4 linked regions of the Homo sapiens genome follow. The protein of the gene in region 4 purifies or fractionates together with the protein of the main gene of each other region. This does not show direct contact. Each region holds a gene or a part of one and is shown on either strand. Other genes may lie near its edges.

What was found.
Region 1: the proteins of CLEC4E (region 4) and TMEM59 purify together in Homo sapiens (affinity purification with mass spectrometry, with the first as the bait; one large-scale study listed by BioGRID). This does not show direct contact.
Region 2: the proteins of CLEC4E (region 4) and SAFB purify together in Homo sapiens (affinity purification with mass spectrometry, with the first as the bait; one large-scale study listed by BioGRID). This does not show direct contact.
Region 3: the proteins of CLEC4E (region 4) and AIF1L purify together in Homo sapiens (affinity purification with mass spectrometry, with the first as the bait; one large-scale study listed by BioGRID). This does not show direct contact.

The regions. Positions count from the first base shown.
Region 1 is NC_000001.11:54,029,205-54,032,704, forward strand, and holds part of TMEM59 (transmembrane protein 59 isoform 2 precursor), read right to left. Parts: intron 3,102-3,500; coding exon 2,946-3,101; 3' UTR 1-2,945.
Region 2 is NC_000019.10:5,664,583-5,668,082, reverse strand, and holds part of SAFB (scaffold attachment factor B1), read right to left. Parts: intron 1,038-3,500; coding exon 919-1,037; intron 737-918; coding exon 633-736; intron 264-632; coding exon 197-263; intron 1-196. UniProt on the Homo sapiens protein: Binds to scaffold/matrix attachment region (S/MAR) DNA and forms a molecular assembly point to allow the formation of a 'transcriptosomal' complex (consisting of SR proteins and RNA polymerase II) coupling transcription and RNA processing.
Region 3 is NC_000009.12:131,095,295-131,099,330, reverse strand, and holds the start of AIF1L (allograft inflammatory factor 1-like), read right to left. Parts: upstream 2,801-4,036; 5' UTR 2,702-2,800; coding exon 2,671-2,701; intron 2,552-2,670; exon of another isoform or gene 2,530-2,551; coding exon 2,468-2,529; intron 1-2,467. UniProt on the Homo sapiens protein: Actin-binding protein that promotes actin bundling. May neither bind calcium nor depend on calcium for function.
Region 4 is NC_000012.12:8,537,344-8,542,711, forward strand, and holds the start of CLEC4E (C-type lectin domain family 4 member E), read right to left. Parts: upstream 3,563-5,368; 5' UTR 3,455-3,562; coding exon 3,418-3,454; intron 2,605-3,417; coding exon 2,512-2,604; intron 1,964-2,511; coding exon 1,874-1,963; coding exon of another isoform or gene 1,857-1,873; intron 1-1,856.

The sequences.
Region 1 (3,500 bases), on a different chromosome or scaffold from region 4:
GATAAGATTGACCAGATCATCTAGTAATTTCTGATTTACTACAAAACATATCACAAATGAAAGGTGCCCATGAAGTTTTGTGAGAAAACTTGGAACCTAGGCCCAGATCATTCATTATGGTGATTAGTACTGCTTTTGTAATTGCCTGAATTAGCATGTCTCTTAGATGAGGGACCTGAGCCAAGAAAGACCTTAGAAGTCTGGGAGGTTTGAACCAGAGACCCAACGGTCTTGAGAATTTGCCTAGGACCAAGACCAGATTCTCAAGATGCTTTCTGTGTGGTAGGAAATAAGATTATGACTGTTTTATGGAAACAAGGAGCTAAGTAAAGTTAGGCACATCCAAGAAGGGCAAAACTGTTACTTTAGGAGAAGGGGCTTGGAAGCTCAGTTTTGTTGCTTTGGTTGGGATTTTCAAGATCGGAAACATTTTTATGCTGTATATATTTTGGGGATTTTTTTTCAAAAGTAAAATATTTCTTCTCAAAAGTAGATTCTGTGCTTCAGAATTTAATTACCACAAGGAGTCAGAAAATCAACACTACAATCCAGCTTCCCAAACAGAAGACTATATTTCCCATTATCTCAATCTTTATCACTGTACGTACCCTGACCCTAGACTCTAGTGTAGAACAAGTAGTTAAGGGAAGAGAGATTAAAATGGTTACTCATGCTGATGATACTCAAATGCAAACATCAGTCTGGCTTAATTATGCTAAAAAAGAGGAGACAAATATTTGAGTGCCTGCTAAATATCAAGAATGTCTTGGTATTTTCACATATAAGGAATTCTCTCAACAAGAGGGGAGATATTTGTCTAAACTTGGATCAATACTTTCAAGAGAAATGAAGGTATCTCAGGCACTTCTCATTCAGGAAGCGAAGAGAAATGAAACCAAGGGAAGGTGGAGAATATAGGACAACTGTACAGTTGCTTTAAAAAAAAAAAAAAAGATGGGATTCTCATTATATTGCCCAGGATGGTGTTGAACTCCTGGCCCCAAGTGATCTAGATAATTCTTTGTTTTGTTTTTATAAGGGAGGGTCTTTTCTAACAGTGGGCTCTTTGATTCCTGTGAGACAGCAGCATTTTGTGTTTCTCTGTTTGCTTCATTGGATGCATTACAATTAAACCTGTGCCTGACTAAGGAAACTAAGTATGCACTAATGATGGGAGACGAAACAACAGGGCTTTTTATTTTTTTTTAATGGTAACTCCTATCCACTACCCATGTTTTATATAGTCCCCATGTTTGTTTGTATTTTTTTGTACAGAGAGGGTCTTGCTATGTTGCCCAGGTTGGTCTCGAACTCCTGACCTCAAGTGATCCTCCTGCTTTGGCCTCCCAAAGTGCTGGGATTACAGGCGTGAGCCACTGTGCCTGGCTGAGTCCCCACGTTTTATCCCATGTTTTCTAACAAAAAGAAGAAAGAAACAATGACTGCTTGACAATGACGGCTAATTCCTCCTTTCTTCCCCATCTGGATGTGTTCACAACTTTCTATCATCCAAATCTAGACAAACTAAAAATAAAAACCTACACTTTGTGACCAAAGTCTTCCTTGATTAGCTGTTAACTGCTTTTCATTTGGACTCAGGAAGGCTAAAGACTAGGCCATAGGAGGAGTGACTAACTTATTCTTTAGTCAAACAGCACTGATGCAGTTGTCAGCAATGCCCCTGTGACTGAGGAAAGTATTGTTTTACAAAGTTTTTAATATTTTATGGCATAATAACAGTGAATCATATTAGAATTCTGGTGTAGGCTGGGCACAGTCACTCACGCCTGTAATCCCAGCACTTTGGAAGGCCTAAGTGGGTGGATCACCTGAGGTCAGGAGTTCGAGACCAGCCTGGCCAACCTGGTGAAACCCCGTCTCTACTAAAAATACAAAATTATCCAGGTGTGGTGGCGCATGCCTGTAATCCCAGCTACTCGGGAGGCTGAGGCAGGAGAATCGCTTGAACCTCAGAGGTGGAGGTTGTAGTGAGCCAAGATCATACCATTGCACTCCAGCCTCAGCAACAAGAGCAAAATTCCATCTCAAAAGATTCTGGTGTATTATTATTATGACCTGATATCATTCTAATATTAAGCTCTGTATTATTGCAGGTAAAAATAAAACGAGTTTTTGCCAAGTAAAATTTATACTTAATTCTGTATCACAAGAGTCTAATTTTTAGTGTTAAAATGAAGTTTTCTCTGAAAATATGTTTACCTTATACTTGATATGCTATCTAACAGAGAAAAATAGTTCTTTGGAAACACTCATCAAACAAAAACCTATAGCCTGTGCAAAATAACATCAAATGTACTGCTGAGAGATCAGTTTTGCATCAAAATGGTCCCTGACCATCACATTATAAAGCAATAGCAATAAACACAGAACATTTCATAATTCTTATCTAGGTTGGGCAGGAATAGGAGGGAAGGTCTAGAAAAATCAGATACTCAAATTTCAGCACATAATTATTCAAATAAAATTTTAATGATTTCAGTTCCTGAAAATGTAGTGTCATTAAAGGTCATTTCCTGCTAAATTTCAAATTACAGATTTGTGGGCCATTCCTGAGCAGAAGCATCATTTCTACTAAATATTCAGCTTGTTAACTAAGGTAACTGACAGTATCATGGCAGGAGGTGAGAAGGAGCAATGATCAGCTCATAGCTAAGAAAAGGGAAAAAAACAATAACCAAAGCAAAAAACAAAATAGCTACAGATATTAGTAAAATAATAATACAATCCCAAACATCCACCTCTTAAATTACTACAAAAACAATACCAATAAAGTTATAGCAAATACAGTCTTCACAGATTTGAGTAACTTTATTTGCATTTTATAGTGATTTCTTAAGGCCTATATCCAATGAAACCATTTTAAAAGCTCTATGAGGAGTGGAATTTTAGATGTCTATTACACTTGTCTTTTAAAAGAAAAATGCTTAAATTTCAGAATGAGCAAGATTCACTTTTGTAGGTAGAGGCCCTGCTTCTTCATGATCTTCAGTTTTAGATCTAACAACCACAAGAGAAGAAGCTGGATATCTGTTTAGCTTTTGTTCATTCATAAACTCCAAGTCACCATAGATACTCAGCTTCTGCAAAAGAAAACCAATGTACATTAGTAGTCTGGATAATTAGGAACCTCTCCAAGTTAGTCTTTAAATAACAATTTAATTTATAAATAGTTGGTAAAAAAAATTCTATAAACAACTTTAAGAAAGAAGAATACTTTTTCTCAAAGTGTTGTAGATATGTGATTCAGCTCCCAATGGATGGCCAAAGAAAGCTGTTCCACGTCTCAAGTTAAAATCCTCAGGAGTATAACAATTGGGTATCAAGAAAAACAGCTATGGATGCCTTAAGTGATCAAGTCCTTCAACATCTTAGCTCTCCTACCAAGTGGTAAAATAATTTGGTGCAAGTTTTTCTGCTCCTAAATGTTTTAGCTTAACATGTATGGAAAATGATAGATGCTATTTGAAAAGGCTGCGAGA
Region 2 (3,500 bases), on a different chromosome or scaffold from region 4:
TGTTGCCTGCAGGCAGGGCCCCTTCCTAATGCCCTCCCCTCCTGAGTGGCAGCAGCCTCCACAGTACCCCATGCCTGGCCTCACGTCACCCTTGGGGGGAGGGGCACTAGCTGGAAGGACTTGGTTGTTAAGCCTCCAGCAAGGTAGGCCAATATGCAAAGCAGGGGGAAGGGGCGCCGCCCCCAGCATGCCTTACCCTGACATTCCTCCTCGGTTCATCATGTGGCCAGGCCCGGAGTGACCGGACATGCTTCTCTCGCCACCTGGAAGACAGACGTGCTTTCACACAGGGAACTTGCGCACACGGCGTGGAACCCACGGCACATTTAGCCCACTCCACTCCCTTTGGTGAGGCCCCCAGGTACCCACAACTAGCGGGTCCCAGGAAGACACCTGGGCACAGGGACCATAGACGTCCAGCTTCCTCCCAGCAGAGAGAACTCGGGAACGCCCACTGTCCAACTCCTGGGCCAGACCACCAGAGAGCAGGCGGTGTCTGGAGTGCTCTTCATTCCTCATTCCAGCACTGAGAGCAGAGCACCTCCTGTGCTCCCCCAAGGAGAGAAGGCGCGGCCTCCATCTTTCCATCACTCCCCAGCACATCCTGGTCCCAGCCCAGAGCTGCTCCTCACCTTGCCACCTCTTGTGATCCCTGTCCATCATGCCCCCGTCGGCCGTGCCCTGCCATGACCGGTCATCCTCTCTTCGGCCATGGTCCCCCCAGTCACGTCTGCCCCTTGAAAGAGAGACATCTCTGATTTGGATTGCCCCCATCTCTGGCTCTTGTGCTAATAACTGTGGCGGCTTCTGGAGAGTGAATCCCTCTGTGTTTCCCACCCTGTGCCCACATCCCAGCGACTTGCGGGCCCCCTTGTGGGCGGGGGGGGGGTCAGGTACTGTCGGGTGTGGGACACAAACCTGGGGGGAGGAGGCAGCCCCCGGCCCTCGCTCATCCTCTTGTCAGAGCCATAGCCCCCCCAGCCATCGCGGGAGTCCCGGCCGTGGCGCTCTGGTCCTCCATGGCGTTCTGGGTAATGCTGGACATCACAGAGCCAGAAGGGAAAAAAAAGCTTCAGTGTCAGCGCCCAGACCCCAAGGCTTTTCAGGCAACATGCTAACGATGACAACGACAGTCACTCGGGACAGAAGTGCTGGCAGGCTGTATCGGTTCACACAACACAGCTGCCTTCCTGAAATCTGCAGGCCAGAGGCCCTGTGCCCTAGGCTCATGGCCTGGTACAAAAAAGGTACTAGTACCAAGGCATCTCCAAGGCAGGTCCCCACAGCACCACCAGAGCTGGGAGGGCCACCAGGAGTCACCCACTAAAGATGATGCTTACAAGAGAGATTCCCTGGGTCCCACAGCTCAAATGGTTAGTTCCCAGAGCCAACAGTATTCTCTTACTGTCTTCTACTAAAGAAAGGTCAGGTTTATAAACCTTTAATGTGTGCATATTCTGGAAATAATTTTTACAAATTTCTTCCTTCCACAGTGAAGGAAGTATCAAATGGAGCCCTTCATCCGACCAATTGCTAGGCAAGCATCCTTCCTCACAGTCAAGTTTCTCGGAAGTTTCTGCTGGATGCCCAGTCCAGGGTCTTGCACCTTGCTCTGCTCAGGATATAAGACACAGGACACTGAGAGATAAACGGCTGGCCTTCCACTTGGCTAGTCCCACCTTTCCCTCTTCTGTGTCATTGTTTTTGTAAGCCACGTGGCTAACACAGACCAGGAGTTCTTGACCCTGCTGTTTCAGGGAAGACCAAGAGAGGGCGAGTCACACTCTATGCCTACTTATTTGATGGCCAAGGTTAATATTTACACCCACAGCCTATTTCTGTGGCTGGAAGCACTTTCCAGCCTGACTTTCACAAAAGCTAGTGAGGTAGCTTTGGCTCCACAGTCCTGTTTTTTCTCTTTCCACCAATACATATGTGGTCTCTGGGGTTTTTGCCCCATGACCACATTGTAGGTGAAAGGAAACTAGAAAGGAGTCCTGGTAAGGAAACCCCCTTGACACAGGCTGGTTGTTGTCCATGTCCAAGTTCACCTCCCCGTTCAACGGAGAGCTCTGCCAGGGTGAAGGGAGAGATGGCGGCATGCTCCACCACGTGCACGATGTCCCACGTTACCACTGCCTGCTTCCTGGCCTATCCTCCCAGCATGTGCTCTGATGCCTCCCCTCAACAAAGTAAGAAAAGGGACTCCTGAAATAAGCTCTCCTTAGTATTTGAAAATTGAACCAACATTTTTCTGTCCAACCAACCCACGTAACTGTTCAATGAGGCCCATAAGTTCTGTGCTAGTTTTCTCTGTAGGGAGATGTTACCATTTCCCTTTGGGGTAACTCTGACGACTCATTTATGACTGTGTATGTGAGGAGAAGGGATCAAACCGCGTTCCACTGTTAGGAGAGCATATCTAACACCTTCATGAAAGCAGCTGGTGGCCAGGTGTGCTGGCTCACATCTGTAATCCTAGCACTTTGGGAGGCCGAGGTAGGAGGATCACTTGAGCTCAGGAGTTCAAAACTGGCCTGGGCAACATAGTGAGATCCCGTCTCTATTAAAAAAAAAAAAAAGTAGCTGGCAATGATAAACACGTTTGTACAGATGCGCCCACCTCATGTAAACCCCCACCACCGCACCCTTTGTAGGAGGAATATTACCCTCATTTCACTCCTGGGGAGACAGGCTCAGCAGGAAGGGGTGACACCAAGGTGTGACGCCAGTTCTGATTCTGGAGCCTTTACATGGAACCATTGGTGTATGCTCCTCCACCAAAGAAAATCCACAAGACTAGTTCTACGTTTTGCTGCATATAATTTGCCTCCAGGAGCAGGGAAAAAGGAACCCCACGAGGCTGATGGAATTCCTGAGGATCCCGAGACAGAGCTGAGTACTTGGCTATGCTCAGCCACATTAAGGAACCAAGGGGGACAGAAGCGGGAAGCTTATGGTGGAGTCCAGAAAATGCTGGCAGGAGGAGGAAGGGCTCATGAGTGGAGTCCTCAGAGAGGAGGCATCTTCCACACAGCAATGTGCTGCCCCCAAGTTTATAGGGAAAGCCACTAGAGGTCCAAGGCTCTCCTGGGAAGTCTCAGTCTCAATGTAAGATGGAAGGAGAAAATGGAGCTTATTGTTCTAATGTGCTAGCCCCCGAAGAGAATGAGCACAGACCACAGATCTAGTTGTTTTCCAAGGCTAAGCTGGGCCCTGGGGTGATGAAGGATGTCCTTACTTTCAAAAGAGGGCAGGCACTCGAGGACAGACACAGCAACCACAGCCTCCCCAGATGCACCTGTCTGAGTCAGCTGTGCGGCTCACTAGACACTTCCCAGCAGAGCCAGGTCACATCCCAAGGTTCCCTGGCACTGTTGCACATGTGTGGTGAGTGTGGCACACAGAACCCCAGGGTCAAGGCTAAAAACAGCTTCAGAGTAACTGTTTGGACTGACAGCCAAGACTAACCCCAAATAATCCCAAATTTCCATTCCACA
Region 3 (4,036 bases), on a different chromosome or scaffold from region 4:
CATCGGTTAATTGTTGCAGGGACTCCAGAGGGGCAGAGATCCCTGCTCCCATTTCAGGCTGGGGAAGACGAGGTTCTGCTGGGCTGAGCAACCAGCATGAGCCAGGGCGGAGTATCTTCCACTCCCTGCACCTTGAGGCCACGAACAAAGAAACTGTCCTGATAGCTATCAGGGCCGCAGCCAGCTCTCCTGGGTGCTTTACATAGATTGTCTCACTGAAAAAATCACAACCATTATCTTTTTGGAGAAGGAGGCTCAGAGAGGTGAGTGGCTTGCCCAGAGTCACAGATCAGTGCTTGTGGGTACCTCATGACTAAACTGGTGGGGCCACCCTGCTCCACTGTGGTGAAGCAGCTCAAGCTTCCCGTGTGATCCTGGCGCCTCCTTCCTACAGGGCCCCAGATCCTGGGCCTCAGCAGCCCTACAGCGGCTGGGCTGTCATGGTGGGTCTCAGTACAGCGTCTTGGCAGGGGAAGGACGCTGGGCTGCAAGCTCTGTCACTGGCTTCTGCGTGGCCTTGGGTCAGCTGCTTGCCCTCTCTGGGCGCTGTCCTGAGGTGGTTAGACCACAGCTCCTTCCTGCTCACTTTCCCTAGTCCCAGTGCTGCCCAGATCAGCCCCTGACAGCTGTTAAAGTCCCTCCTCTTTCTAAGCCAAGCTAGTCGGTTTCCCAAAACAACCCTGGAGCCGCCCCCTCCCCCAACCCACCTCCCCAAGGGCTAGGTTGGCCCCGCCCTCTTAGCTCTTCTGGCTTGTCCAACCATGGTCACCTCACCCCCATCTCCAGCTGTCTGTGGCTCAGGGTCCCGCTGGCTGTGGGTGGCTCCAGCCAGCTCAGAACCCGCCTGGCCAAGTGACCCAGGGGGCTATATGAGGTCGGGGTTCCAGCCTTCTGTCCAGAGGGCTAGAGCAGCCAAGCCCCAGGCTGGGCAGGCACACAGTGATCTGGGAAGGAGCCCAGCAGGGATCCGAGACCCCTGAGCACCCCAGCCAGATGTCCGGGCAACCTTCCAGTTGTGCTCAAGATGCCCCCAGGAAGCAGGGTGAGGGTGGCGGTGAGGAGGCCGGAGCTTACCTGGAGGGGGAACCCTGAGGTCCCCAGAGCCCTGTAGCTGGGGACCGAATGGGAGTCCTGTAGCCAGCGGATGGAAAACAGACAGGCTGCCTACATCCAAGCAGTCCAAGAAAACCAAGGGGGAATCAAGGCTGCACACTGCTGGCAAGAGGCAATACCACAACCTGGCCCCAGGCTCGGACCCGCCTCCCACAGCCTTCTCGGGCTCTGCTGACCTCACCAGCGGCCCACTTCCAGACTGTCAGCTGGGCTTAGACCCTGGGTGTCCAGGGGACCAGAGGAGCCTGCAGGGGGAATGCCAAGCCTTGTTTCAGCGGGCGTGCCTCTGCCACCAGTTAAGAAGGAAACTGGGAGACATCCACCTCAGGAAATAATGCTAGTTCTGTGAGTGCTTCCTGAATGCTGGGTGCTGGGCCATGCAGGCCACGGGCCTTCCCTCTCTGAGCCTGCACAATGCCCTGCTTGGAGATGAGAGGCCCTTTGCTGAGGACCACAGAGCTGGCACACAGTGGAGGCCAGATCTGAGCCCAGGTCTTGCAGAACTTTAAAGCCACTGGCTGTGCTGCCTTTGAGCTTTGGCCAACCCAGACAGGTCCTGATATCTTTCCTTATCTTCTAGAATCTATGTAAATTTATGGAGCTCTCACTGGATGCCTGGCAACAACAGGAAAGATTTCTTTTGAGAAATCCACCAGGACCAGCAAGAAAAGCATTGAATCCCTTAAGGCAATCTTTCCTGAAAGTTGGAGTGAAGAGGAGTGGTGTGTTTGAGGGAGGCGGGAGGCTGGAGACCACGGGGAAGTGCCAGGATCTCTACGCCCATCAGAGTCTTCTATTTGTACTTTTGAATCCCTTATAACAACAATAGCTAAGGCCAGGCGTGGGGGCACATGCCTGTAGTCCCAGCTACTCGGGAGGATGAGGAGGGAGGACCGTTTGAATCCCAAAGGTGGAGGCTGCAATGAGCTGAGATTGGGCCACCGAACTCCAGCCTGGGCGACAGACCAGCAAATGACCCGGAGCCTGTGTTCTGAGCTGGAGAGATCACTGGCCTAGGGCCCTTCCCGCGCCAAATCCTTGGGCTGCTCCCAAGCGGGCTTGCGGGGAGCCACGAGCCGGCTGGCATCCGAGCTCCTGACCCGGCCCCACCTCCCCAGTCCCCAGTTGCAAGAGTAACAACTTGCAACCCGAGACCGGAGGCGGGAGGCGGAGGCGGACCTACCTGGAGTCGGAGGCGACGGGGCTGGGGGCGGAGGGAGGCACCTGAGGGAAGCCCAGGGGAAGGGAAGGAAGAGGGTAGATCTGGAGGCGGGCACGGCCTCGCGGAAGGAGAGGTGGCACCCGCGCAGCGCGCGGCTCGGGACTCGCGTGCTGCCCTGGGCGCGGGGCTTACCCGGTTGATCTCGGCCAGCCTCCTCTCCTGCCGGGCTTTGAGCAAGCCGAACGCCTTCCCTCCTGGAGGAGACAAAGAGGCGGCCTGGGAAGCGGGGTCCTCTTCGGGCCACGCGCCCCCGTCCCCGCCCGCTTCCCGCGCGCGGTGGACCCCGCGGTCCGCCCGGCGCGCACAGGTGGCTGCTCGGGGACGGCGGCGCCTACCTTGGAACCTGTTGCTGAGCTCGCCCGACATGGCGAGCGCGGGGCTCCCGCCGGCTCCAGGCTTCGCGGACGCGGCGAGGGACGAGGAGGAGGCACAGGCGCCTGGTCCGGGCTCCGGCTAGCTGCGTGTGGCCGCGGGACCGAGGGGCGGAGGAACGGCGCGGGCGGCCGACACACCCCTCCCTCCGCTGCCGGCCCCTCCCTCCCTCCCTCCCGCCTCGCCCCTCCCCTCCCGCCTCTCCCCTCCCCTCCCGCCTCTCCCCTCCCCTCCCGCCACCCGCTCCGCGGGCTTCAAAGCGGCTATTATGCGGGACGCTGAGCCCGCCGGCCGACCCCTCTGCTGGAGGACGCGGAAAGTGCAAAGCGCGGGGCGGCCGCACCCCTCCTCTCTGCCCCTCCCCGGACCTCAGCAAGTCCCTGCCACACAAATGAAATGCGAGGATCTTAGCATGAACTCCATGGGGTGGTTGTGAGGACCAAGTGCCGTCGGGGAGTCGGCGCTCAAACATCACTGCTGCCTTTGGGGCAGTGCGGCTGCTGTGACAACAGTGGCCCGTCAAATCAATTGGAATGAATTCGTGTCTTGTTAATAAAAGAGATTTCTTGGGCACTCACAGGCACTTTGCACCGTACACCAGTCATTTCATTCTCAAAACTCCATGAAATAGGACTTGGCATTCCCATTTCCAGAAGAGAAAAGTCAGGAAGCTGGAGCTGGGGCGCAAGGCCACCAGGAGGAAAGACCAGCCCATGACTCCAGGAAGAGCGGAGCTCAGGATGCAGGATAGGGTACCTGTGGCCAGGGTGACCATGAAGTCTAGTGTCCAAATCAGGACAGCCAGAGTCAAGGGAGCACTCCTCATAATGATGCTGGGCCACAGGCATAGACAGGCGCTGTCCAGGGCAGGCAGCGCTAGGAATGGCCCCACCGTGCATCTGACTCCTAGGGTAGGGACCCTGAGATCATCTTTCTTATTTATTTATTTTTTTCGAGGCAGAGTCTTGCTCTGTTGCCCAGAGCTGGAGTGCAGCGGCTTGATCTCGGCTCACTGCAACCTTCGCCTCCGGGTTCAAGTGATTCTCCTGCCTCAGCCTCCCAAGTAGCCGGGACTACAGGCACACACCACCACGCCCAGCTAATGTTTGTATTTTTAGTAGAGACGGGGTTTCATCATGTTGGCAAGGTTTGTCTCGAACTCCTGACCTAAGGTGATCCACCTGCCTCGGCCTCCCAAAGTGCTGGGATTACAGGCGTGAGCCACCACGCCCAGCCGAGATCATCATTTTTCTGTGGCTGTCCCTGGGGAGGGAAGTGCCCAGCAAGGGGCTAGGCAGAATGGGATGGGGCTGAGGTCAGGGCAGCAGT
Region 4 (5,368 bases):
GTCCTCATTTAAGTCAGAAGCCTTGGAATCACTTGTTCATACCCTACATCTTAGTATCTAAGACTTTAGATAATTCCAATGTCAAGAAACATAAACAGAATGTTTTTGGTCTTTTGAACGTAATTCTCATTCTCTGGATGTCAGTGCCAGGAAATGCAACTATATATGCAAACTATCTTAGTTATGCTATTGATATAGAACCTTATTATCTGTTCTTAGACTACTAATGTCAGAGAAATTTATGCATTTTATTTGGGTGACCCCCAAAGAGCCATCTCTTATGTTACCTAAACAATGTATCCTCAATCAAATCTCCATACTGTAGTATATAGATGGGTTAGATGTGGGCGGCAAGCCACCCAGGCGCTGAGGCAAGAGACAGAGGACACGAGCTGTTCCAGTATAATAAAATATAAAACAAGAATAGTTATACCAGATATAGATCTTAGATATGATTATATATGAATATCATTAATCATTAGTTTGTAGCAATTACTTTTTATTCCAATATTATAATAATCCTCGCTCTATAATCATAGCCAAGGAAAAACCAGGCCGTACAGAGCTACGAGCTGAGGGGACATAGTGAGGTGTGACCAGAAGACAAGAGTGCGAGCCTTCCGTTATGCCCGGACAGGGCCACCAGAGGGCTCCTTGGTCTAGCGGTGACGCCAGCGTCTGGGAAGACGCCCGTGGCCAGGCAGACAGACTGTGGTCTAGCGGTAGCGTTAAGTGTCAAGGGAAAACACCCGCTACTTAGCAGACAGGAAAAGGGAGTCTTCCTTTCCCTGGGGGAGTTTAGAGAAGACTCTGCTCCTCCACCTCTTGTGGAGGGCCTGACATTAGTCAGGCTTGCCCGCAGTTATCCGGAGGCCTAACCGTCTCCCTGTGATGCTGTGCTTCAGTGGTCACACTCCTAGTCTGCCTTCATGTTCCATCCTGTACACCTGGCTCTGCCTTCTAGATAGCAGTAGTAAATTAGCGAAAGTACTAATAGTCCCTGATATGCAGAAATAATAGCGTAAGCTGTCTTTCTCTCTGTCTCCTCTCCCTCTCTGCCTCGGCTGCCAGGCAGGGAAGGTCCCCCTGTCCAGTGGACACGTGACCCACATGACCTTACCTATCATTGGAGATGACTCACACTCTCTACCCTGCCCCTTTCACCTTGTATCCAATAAATAACAGCGCAGCCAGACATTCGGAGCCACTACCGGTCTCCGCGCATTGGTGGTAGTGGTCCCTTGGGCCCAGCTGCCTTTTCTTTTATCTCTTTGTCTTGTGTCTTTATTTCTACATGCTCTCGTCTCTGGACACAGGGAGAGACCCACCAACCCTGTGGGGCTGGTCCCTACAGTTAGATTTCTTAGAATTACAGAACTTTTGCCTTTGAGGTCTATTATAAATAATTCTTCTAACTTCTCTCAATTTAATGGTGAGAAAATTATAGCTCAGAGAAGGAAGTCACTTTTTTAGTGTCATGTAGCATTTTGCTAGGACTTGCAACAGGATGACATAGAAGAGCATAGAGAGTATATTTGTGAGATATTTATAAATTCTCTACTCCATACGTTTTTTCTCCATCTCATTTTGGAAGTAGGTGAATGAAAAAAAAGGTACACTCCTGGGAATAATACCTTCCACTTCCAGATTTACTGTTCAGACATACCCCTCAAATTTATTCTAAAAGTTTACTATAATGTCCCCAAGACTTTCTGCCCCAATGCTAATTGCATCACCAAATTTCTAGGATTTTACATTTTGCTTTTGAAAAATAAGACCTAATCCAGCTATATCTCACCTGTCCCAAAGTCAATCTAGAAGCCAGAAAATGTTGCTTTGTAAATTTTGATGTTCACCTTTGGGACTATTATACCTGATCCATAATTGTAGCAGGAGAGCTCTGTGAAATTCTCAGGTAGCTGAAACTTTTTCTCATCACAGGTTTGAAAGATGCGAAATGTCACTGTAAAAGAAAGGGCATAATGTTTGTTAGTCTTATTTCGGTTAAAAATGTCAGTTCCCTCAGTTTTGTATTTATAACAAAAGTGCCAATAATTATCATGTTTTTTCTTACAATCTGCTTTTTCTTACGACCCAGAGAAAATAGATATGTTTGCACTACCTCTTATGCCAAGTCCAACTCTCTCTACCCTTCCTTCCAAAAGTAATTAGTCATATCTCTGGTGCCGACCAGTAGTTCAAGCTCTAAGGCAGACTCTCCTAGAGAAGGTTACACTAATGATAGAGGCTGAAAGAGGAGGATTCAGGACTGCCAAGGAAGTGAAAAATGTCTATCATGAAAAGTAAGTCACAGGTGATTAAAATTCAGAAACAGTTCCCTGCTTGTTGAGGTTTCTGGTTTGAGAAATAACCTAGAGATTAATAGGGAAAAAAAAAAGGGTGAAATAGAAAGACCCTTTGAGGGCAAAGAGAGTCTACAGGCAGCATGGAAGAGTTTTCTCCTAATATGCACCAGGAAGAATTAAATTGAATTTGACCTTCAGAACCCACCAACACATCTGGTGATGAAACAGGCACTGAGAAATAGGATGGGGATCCCAGCAACAGTCCATAAGAACATTTGGGAAGAGAAGCATCCTCTCTCTGTAGAAAGAAAGACACAAACATGATCAATCTTCCCTAAGCAAGGTACAAAAGAGATAGAAGAGATTCTTATTCATCCTTACTTATTTCCTTCTACTTCCATTGTTTGTACTGAGTAATTCCCAAATTTCAGCATGCTTCAGAATCACTTGGAGGGTTTATGGAAACACAGATTGCTGACCCTTACCCCCAGAGTTAGCAACTCAGTAGAGTTTGTATGGAACCAACAAGTTCCCAGGGGCTACTGCTGCTGCTGGTCTGAGGACCACACGTTTAGCACCCCTGGAGTAAGACTCTGACTCATGAACTCAGATATACAATTTTTCCTTTCTAAGTCTCTCAGTTAAATTTTTTTCAGTATTTTCTAAGGCCCCCCTTCTTTCTTTTTCTTTCTTTTCCCTTTTCTCGTCTTTGCTTTTCTTGTCCTTCTCCTGATCTTTTTTTTTTTTCTGTGTCTCACTTTTCAAGCGCTTTGTAAATTAGGTAAAATGTTAACAGTCATCTAATAGTTCCTCTCTTCCTCCCATTAAACATTTTACAGACAAAGAGAGTTCCAGAGAAGTGAAGTGACTTGCCAAAAGGGACACAATGTATTGCAGAAAGGGTGGAAACTGATAGCTCTCCCTTAGCTAGAGGCCAGCAGGCTTTCTGGTATAAGAAATAGTCTTTAAATCTCTCTCTCTCTCTTCCTCTGTCCCCCCACTTTTTTTTTTAACTTCAGTGAATACTTTTCTATTGTCCTGTCTTTCACCATATTTATCACTTGTTCCAAAAAGAGATCTATGGAAGGAAAGGAAGAGTTGCAGATTTTACCTGTGCATTGTGTTTCAGATGATTTAGATGAATTCATTTTTTCTCTCTCTTTGGTTTTTTGTTTCTCTCTCTCTCTTTTTCTCTCCCTCCCTCTCTTTCTTTCTCCTCAGGAGTGTTTTGTTGGTAAGATTCAGGGAGAATGAATCTTGAAAGATAAACACTTTGTCTTTTAGGAAGTTCAGCTCCGATAGATGTAGAATATTAACTTGTTCTGTGGCTACGCATTAAGTCAGGATTTCCTTTCTTGCATAAGGAGGACAAGGAAGTTTATTGGACAGCATGTCAGTTCTCTTCACTCCATGTAACAACAAAATGAGGAAATTATGAAATGGTAAGCATCAACACAAATAGGCTAGCCATGGGGAAACAGGAGAGTTTTTTTTTTAAATGTTGTTTCGTTTCGTTGGACCAAATGTCTCTAGTTTCTTCAAGGCATAACTCATCCCCCAGTTTTTCCTTGACAATATGGAGCTCACCTCTGCACTCTGAATTTCACTTTGGATCTGTACCATCCACACATTTGGTAACTGAAAAGAAGACTTAGACAACATAGCACAAAGCTGGGCATATAGTGTATGTATTTAGGACATGGCAACCTGAATTTTTTCATCTTTTTTTTTTTTTTTTTTTTTGAGACAGAGTCTCGCTCTGTCGTCCAGGCTGGAGTGCAGTGGCATGATCTCCGCTCACTGCAAGCTCCGCCTCCCGGGTTCAAGCCATTCTCCTGCCTCAGCCTCCCGAGTAGCTGGGACTACAGGCGCTCGCCACCACGCCTGGCTAATTTTTTGTATTTTTAGCAGAGACGGGGTTTCACTGTGGTCGTCAGGATGGTTTCAATTTCCTGACCTCGTGATCCGCCCGCCTCAGCCTCCCAAAGTCCTGAGATTACAGGCGTGAGCCACCGCGCCCGTCCTCTTTTTCATCTTTTATGGTTTTTCTTTCTTCTTCATTTGCAGCTCTTGAATATTCTAATGTTGTGGATTTATGTCCCTCTTATCTTATGCTGACTACTAGGCTGCTACTACTAGGCTGACTACTAGAGTCCCCCTCAGCAGGACAGCCTCATGTGATTAGACCACTTTGAAACTCAGCTTAGTTTTTCACAACATAACGCAGCTTCTGAAGTCTCAGAGACCCAGCAGGCAGTTTAATTCTCCTGTTCTCAATTATTTGGGGATTTTAGTTCTATGTTACAGCCTACAGTAGGAGAAATGTATTTGAAGGTCAGAAAAAGCAATTTCAATTAGATATTAGAATTTAATGGTTCTCTGGGCCGGGAGCAGTGGCTCATGCCTGTAATTCCAACACTTTGGGAGGCCAAGGTGGGTGGATCATTTGAGGTCAGGAGTTTGAGACCAGCCTGGCCAACATGGTGAAACCCCACCTCTACTAAAAATACAAAAATTAGCCAAGTGTGGTGGCACGCATCTGTAATTCCAGATACTTGAGAGGCTGAGACAGGAGAATAGCTTGATCCTGGGAGGCAGAGGTTGCAGTGAGCCAAAATTGCACCACTGCACTCCAGCCTGGGCGATAGAGTGAGACTCTGTCTCAAAAAAAAAAAAAAAAAAGAATTAATGCTTCTCTGGAAGAATAGTTAGATATGTGCCTTCTCCTTACTTAAAGATACTTAAGAATAAGATCACACTGGTCTCAGTTTATTTAAGTTCACGAGTCAGGAGGCATAAGTATGATGTACATGACTTGGTAAATCCCCACATCCAGTGACTCACGAATTTTCCATGTGTGAGAAAATATTCTTGTTCTCAAAGGGACTTTTTATTATTTCAAGGTACTGGTCAATTTTCTCTGCATTCTCTGTTTTATAGTAATACAATTTTAAAAATATCTTTAAATTATATATGTGTATATTATAGAATATACCCATATTTAATATGTGTATTCTCAGCAAATAGCTTTTGATCAGTAAAAAAAGAGAAACTATCTAGTG